2 linked regions of the Homo sapiens genome follow. The protein of the gene in region 2 interacts with the protein of the main gene of each other region in a biochemical or structural test. Each region holds a gene or a part of one and is shown on either strand. Other genes may lie near its edges.

Region 1 (3,830 bases), on a different chromosome or scaffold from region 2:
AGGCATTTAAAAATCTTTCCCCAAATAGAAAAATCAAAGGCTGTTGACATATTTCCCCATTTTATTATGCATGCTGATCAAGCTAAAAAATATGTGATACCAAGACTTGTTTTTAAGCAAACACAACAATAAAGAGGAAAAGAAGCATATGGCCTTCATGTAACCTATAATAAAGAACCCTGGAAATCTGGTATGGCAAATAGCAGGTAACTGAACATAACAACAGTCCCTTCCTCTTTCTCAGAGTGGTGGAGGTAACTACTTCACAAGCATTAGCTCCTTTAGGTCTCACGACAACCACTTGACATATATGCATGGCAGCAATTGCTCTCCTTTTACAGATGTAAATAAAAGTGAGGCTCAGTTCAGATTAGGTAAATTGTTCAGGGTTATACAATTGAAGTGGCAGAGCTGGCATGCAGCCAGCTGACTCTCCACCCATTGCTCCATGAACTTGTTTGGACACATAGTTTCTCTGGTCACTTACACCACCATATCTCACCTGGCTATTTAGCTTGGAGGACTCAGCTTTTTAGATTTGGCTGACTCACGTTCTATGTATCAGCAGTGTGCTTTCTGTTAGAGGATCTCAATGTATTTTGTGCAACTCATGGGATAATTTATGGGGTGGTGGGGAAAACCATGGACTTTGCAGTCAGAGACAAGTGTTCCGAACTCTTTTAAGGCTGCCATGGAAAATAAAGGAAACAACATACATCAAGTGCCCAGTGCAGCACACAGTAGACATTTAGGAAGTTAGTTACTTTTTTCCTTGTGGTCATTAAGTGGTAGTATCTTCAGTCTTCTCTGGAGAAAGTTGGATGCAGAGTAACCCGTGTTTTCATGAGAAGGAATGGGGAAAAAAGATATGCAAAATTCAATGCTCAACTGGTGAAGGTTTTTTTCTAAGGACAAATGGGACTTATTTACCAAATCATGCCCAGGCTTATGATTCTCTCCCAGGCAAGAGGACACTGACTATTTGAGAGGAAAAGCCCAGAGACTGGTGTCTCTGAAGGACACTTTTAAGGAAGCGGAATTGACATGAAAAACTTGTGTCCACCATGCCAATTCTAATAGCACAGCAGCAAATATGTGACCCTGAAAACACAAGTTGGCCAAAGCCATAAATCTACCCCACTGGTGAATGTAATATATGTCTCAAATGGATGTATGAAATATCCTTTTCATCCTAGTGAACAGTAAAACATTTAAACTTATAATTCATATATGCTAAACTGCTTGACTTTAAATGCTCTTAGTGAATGGCTTTTAATCTCTGAATATAAACCTGATTTTAGCAATGCCTTTATTGAGAATCCTTTGATCCTTCGTTAGCATTTTAACTCCTGACTCATAAGTGATAAAACAACAGATTAGAATATTATACCATTTGCCATAGTTTGGCAGCTAGTTAGGGTAAACCTAAGTAATTCCTTGGGACATAATTTTATTCCAATATTTAGGATGAATCTATGTGCAAGGGTACACAACAATTCCTGAGTTATTCTGATCATAACATTTGATCAATAAAAAGCAGGATTACTTACAGTGGTAGAATTCTTTTCTCTGCAAAGGGGTAGCTGGTATCCCCATTCGCTCACTTATTTCCTGCATACATGGGTGTGGCAGGCACTGTTATAGGTACTGAAGATTCAAAGAAAGCTAAGATATTACCCTTGCTCTCAAAGACTTCCAAAGTCTATTAAGAAAGAGAAATACATAAGTAGGTAACTACAAAGCAGTGTGATCAATCTTACAAGGGAGATAGGGGCATTGCTCATTGGTAAGAGGTGAATTTCTAGAAGTAGGAGTTTGGGAAATTAAGACATAATTCTACTTGATCCAGAATCACTACATAATTCTACTTGATCCCGAATCACTGAACTTTGTTTAATGACAGGAAGTTTTCAGAGGAGGAAAGTGGATTGGATTGGGAAGTACTCTCATCCAAAGGATCCTTTCTTAGTCAACCTATTCTTGCATTGCTCCATGAGTTTTGGAGTTGGGAATAGGATTTCTGGCCCAGGAGGTACCATGTTTCTTAAAGCTTGACCCCTTCCTCCCATGAGCGGCAGAAAGTGGTCTCTACAGGGAGAGATCCCAACAGATTGGGATACTGGAATATAGTCATGTATTTAAGGGACATTTTAGTGACATCCTAGTTGATTGCCATGTAAATAGAGACAAGTTCACACAAAGACATACCTTAGATATTTACTGAGTTCGGTGATGGCTGAGGCTGGTTCTTAATATGTATTTGTTTATGATATAGCAATCTCTCTGTAGATACTGACAGCTCAGTAGAAACCTTCAATAGATTGTATATTTTGATTAGAGAGCCATAGCTCTTTTCTACATTGAATTAATGTCTTAGATTCTAAAAGGCATCCCATTGAAACATGCCTTTTAAAATAATGACACCTCAAGAGGGGACACCTAGCATAACACATGGAGGGCAGAAACATGATGATTTTATTTACAGCTCTGACTTTAGGAACCAGTGTATGTTTTCCTGGTACATGGCAGGTGTTCAATAAATATTTGTTCAATGGATTAATTAATGAAGAATGCCATAATAGCAGCTGATTTATGATGAAGCAATACATGGGCAGTGATCATGGAATTGGAAAAAGTAGATACATTCAGCAATTTCTCTGGCATAAATTAGGAATGGACTTTCCCATTAAAATAAAAAATTCACTCAACAAGGCTAATGCGTATTGAAATAGTTTGCCAGTGTTCTTCCTAGCAGTCTTTCTGGCATTTATTTCTGTGCATTTTCTGTTTATTGATAGAGAAGTCACAGTGTGATTTACCTATACCTAGCTGCCAGACCAACTTCGGAATAACTGCAGGGAAATTTAAGAAATTCACTGTTTTGGAATTTGCCAGTTATTATTCTTTGAAACTGTACCAAAGATGAACATAAATAAAGGAGATTAACAACTTGGTCTGAGACTCTTCATGGAAAGGGAACTCTGTCCAACTTGCAGGATTTTCAGAGCTCAACTGAGAAAATTCTCTGAAAAAGGAATGAGGCAGGAGTGTAGGGCTGAACTCTGGCCTCAGGGGGGCACCTAAGAGACTTTCATTTTTTTACTTGCTGTTATCAGTAAAGGACAGAAACCACTGATTCAAGGTTACAGGCATGGAAAGTCATCTCTCAAGTTCAAGATCTGTGACTAGTGTCATTTGAATAAAGGAAGTGATGGGGAAGCTGGGACCAGATGGTCATTTTGTAGAACCTGCCACTTTGGAGGAAAATAACCTTTTTCTTTAAGTAAAAATGGACCACCTTGGAAGATTAAGACACAATGAGTCAGCAGAAAGTGCCAACAGTCTCAATTTAAGACATGAGAATTAGACATCTTTGAGTAATATGAACCATATCAACAACAGCAAAGAAGAGGATGAAATATATTTTTCCACAACCAAAGAAAGCAAGCCATAAGCCCAGTACAGCTGTTATTCAGCATCATTCGGGAGCAGGCATCATTTGACTGAATTTCTCTGGAATCATTGTTAAGCATTTAGAAGGAAATGCTAATCCTTAAATAGGATTTCCCCCCATCTCTTTTTAGGGATACAGATTTGTTCTTACCAGTAAGTCAGTCACTGCTGAGGTTGACCTCTGTAGTCAACAATAAGAAAATCAGTTAGGATTTCCTCTTGTGATACCATGTTTTACCTTGGTGGAAAGACATTGAAATCTGCAGTAGGTTGTGACAAGGCGAATGTGTTTTTTTTTTTTCCCCTCCGGGACATGTGAATTTATTTGATGTGTGACTATGAATTTAATTAATCAACATTGTACCACCAACTGCTGA
Region 2 (3,830 bases):
TGTGACCACTATTAATAGAGATAATAAAGACTATCACTGTTTTCTACCCTAAAATGGCCCCTTTACATTTTTTTTTTAATCAGGGAAGTTTTATTATGTTGGCTTACAGTAACACAATCAGAAAACTATATTGCAGGTCAGGGCCCCCTAGATTCATAGTGTTTGAAGGTAATGAAGAAGATATAAATCAAAATACCTTATCCTGAGAAAGATCTTACCAGCTGTGCAGCTAAGACACTTGAGAACTCGCTATTCATGGCATATGGAAGTGCTGTCTGTGCTCTTGAACCGTAAGTAGTCTGGAACCTCTTCTTTATCTCATTCAGAAAATTAAAGGCTCGGGAACGTTCAAAATCCTGAAAAGAGATCAACACAGAACTCACATTTAGAAAGTAAACAAAGATGATGTGAGTGATTAAGAACAACAATAAAAAACAGCTAACATTTACTGAGCAATGATTATCTGAGGAGGAACTAGCATTGATCCTATCTTAAAGATAAGTAAAGGAAGGCTCTGAAAAAGTAACTAACTTGTCCAAAGGTCCAACAACTAGTAAATGAAAGAGCTGAGAATGAATCCAGATATATCTGGTCATTGACAACTGAAGATAATGATACCTAGGTTATCAACTTCTTGACATCAGGAATTGAATTTTACTTCCTCCATATATTTCATAAGATCTATTAGAAGGCCCAGCACAAGAATATGTTTAATAAATCCCATAATAATCATAGAGTCTTTCACACATACAGATACTACTACTGATATTAACTTCAAATCGAATTTTTTCAATAGTGGTGGTATATTTGAAAAGATCAAGTGACATACTCATGTCTAATCCCAGCCAGCCAAAAAGTATGTGTGTTCTCTGTAAGAATACCTTAGAGGAAAAAAATGAATGTGTGTATGTGTGTTTATGTATACATGTATATGTGTGTATCAAATTATAGCTCAAGAAATATGAGGCTCGACTCTAACTATCCCAGATTTCATTAGTATTTTCCTTCTATTCCAAGCTGTTTCACATCAGTCATTTCACATATAGCTAGATTTTTTCGTACTTTTGGAAAATATTGTGAAGCCAGAGATAAAAATCATTGTGATGATCACTATGGTTGACAGTCATTTCCCTTTCACCCAAGATGCTTAGTCTAAGCCAAGGGTTCTTAAATTGGGGTCAATGGTCCAAATTCAAGGGGCCTTTGAACTTGGATAGAAAAAAAGAAAATCACATCATTATTTTTATCAATCGTTAACTTATATTTCAATTGTGAATATAGGTTGTATATTCATAATCGGGGTAGTATTAAACAGTACCTGTAACTGTCACCAACAGAAATCTTTTTTTGTATACCATCACAGTTACAGATATCTCAAAATACTGTCAACACCCATCACATCAAGACTATTAGTTATTAGACCTATGACTAGATCTTGTTAATGAGTTCATAAAGAAGCATATATATTACTACATCAAGTTTTTAAAATATTTTGAATACTATATATATATATATTTCAATATAATTGGCTTTGTTAGAATTGTGTGTGTTTTATACATTTAAAAGCATTCTGGAAAAGGAAAATTAAAAAAAGAAAACAAAAACATTCTGGGAGTGTCCCACAAGTGACGAGTCTGTGATACAATAAAGATTAGGAACCCTGATCTATGGCAACCATGCCAATTCCAAGTCTCTTTGCCAGTAGGCAGTTTAGAAATGAGCATGCAGCCAATAAGACATGAAAGGAAGTTCACTTTGAAAGCAGGGGGAGGGGAGGGCATGCAGCTGGGAAAAGCTTCCTCATTCCTACAATAAGACACTCAAGAAGACACAGTCCCTCTACTCCGGACATGAATAAATAAGTATGTAGCTCTACGAAACCATAATGGCAACCTGTCTGGGAAGAAGGAGACACGGAGATAAGCAGAGAAGAGAAAGGACCTTAATGACATCATTAAGTTACTGAGAATTTTGGGCTGAGAGCCGACAAACAGTCATACCTAACCAATGTAAACTACAGGTTTATATAGCTGATCATAATGTATTGTAATTTTGTTTTTCCAAAGTTCACATACATTAAAGGATTCATTAACTACTGATAGAAGAAATGATGCTATCTAATTTAACATTCCACGTAAACAATTTTTGAGAGGTTTTGATATCAAAGAATTATAATTATGAACATCAATTCTCACTACAAAATAGAATAAATATAGAAGTTGCAAGAGGCTAAGCTAAAACTCTACCAAAATTGAGTTGATTTGCACATACCCCAGTATCAAGTTTTCTTAACATTTGCTGCTCTATATGACAAATGCAAAATATTAACAATTCCAGCTATGTAAAGTTCGCATCACGTTTGCCCACTATAGGTACAGATCAGCAGTCCCCAACCTTTTTGGCACCAGGGACCGGTTTTGTAGAAGACAATTTTTCCAAGGACTGGGGGAGGGTGAATGGTTTCGGGATTAAACTGTTCCACCTCAGATCATCAGGCATTAGATTCTCCTAAGGAGCATGCAATTTAGATCCCTCGGATGCAGAGTTCACAACAGGGTTCACACTCATATGAGAATCTAATGCTGCTGCTGATCTGACAGGAGGCAGAACTCAGGTGGTAATGCTCATAGGCCACTCACCTCCTGCTATGTGGCCTGGTTCCTAACAAGCCACAGACCTGTACCGGTCTGCAGCCTGGGGGTTGGGGACCCCTGGTATAGATAATTAAGAACTGGCTGTATTAACAGTACACATAGTTAAATAGCAATATGTCTTCAAGTTACTTACATCATCAGTGATACAAAGATATACAATCCTGTCTTGGCAGATGTAATGAAACAAATAACTGTAGAATAAAAGATATAAAACTTACTGTGGTTATAAGCAACATCACTTTTACTTCTATCTTCTATCTATGTATAAGCACGTTCAGTACTGCCAATGTCACCATATTACTTACGGATACAGTCTCTTCTCCCTCTTCCCCTTCCCAATATACCTGTTTCTTTCAAGTCAAACTGATAGAAGTACATAAGAAATAAAAAGATCTCTATTCTAGCTACATAGCACAACAGCATGTGTATTACCCATTAGAACGATAGCTGCAAAAGCATAATTGGACTCTTAAAGCATGAACAAGAGATGACATCTTAGGAGGAGGATGTAATTAAGATTAACCCCCAATAGGCCATATGGTTTTCTTTGCTTTTTCCTAAGTTCTTAAAGCAAACATCTTTTCTACCAAATTCTCAACATTTGAGTATCCACTTTGAGTTAGTTACTGTGCTGGATGCTGAGGATACAAAAAAGCAAAACCACCAAGTCCCAGTCTTCATAGGGATCACAGTGTAAGGAATTACAGTGCAGCATGGCAAACAGGATGACAGGAAAGTTAAAGGCAGTACATGGTGCTCTGGGGACACATTAATAGATGAGGCACGAAATGGAGATTTGCCAAAGGGTAACCAGAAAGACTTCCCAGAACAAGTGATGTCTGATTTAAGACCTGAAGAATAAGTAACAGATGGCAAGGTAAAGAGTGAGCGAAAGGCCAGGCGTGGTGGCTGGCTCATGCCTGTAATCCTAGCACTTTGGGAGGCTGAGGCGGGCAGATCGCTTGAGCTCAGGAGTTCAAGACCAGCCTGGGCAACATGGCAAAACCCCGTCTGTACACAAAATACAAAAATTAGCCAGGTGTGGTGGCACACGCCTATAGTCCCAGCTACTTGGGAGGCTGAGGCAGGAGGATCGCTGGAACCCAGGAGGTTGAGGCTGTAGTAAGCTGAGATTGCGCCACTGCACTCCAGCCTGGGTAACAAAGTGAGACCTTG

Evidence for each region.
Region 1: the proteins of VAMP7 (region 2) and SNAP25 form a complex in vitro, tested with the Homo sapiens proteins (one study listed by BioGRID).

Annotation. Positions count from the first base shown.
Region 1 is NC_000020.11:10,225,159-10,228,988, reverse strand, and holds part of SNAP25 (synaptosomal-associated protein 25), read right to left. Parts: intron 2,312-3,830; exon of another isoform or gene 2,209-2,311; intron 1,703-2,208; exon of another isoform or gene 1,551-1,702; intron 1-1,550.
Region 2 is NC_000023.11:155,894,638-155,898,467, reverse strand, and holds part of VAMP7 (vesicle-associated membrane protein 7), read right to left. Parts: intron 2,846-3,830; coding exon 2,788-2,845; intron 357-2,787; coding exon 219-356; intron 1-218. UniProt on the Homo sapiens protein: Involved in the targeting and/or fusion of transport vesicles to their target membrane during transport of proteins from the early endosome to the lysosome. Required for heterotypic fusion of late endosomes with lysosomes and homotypic lysosomal fusion.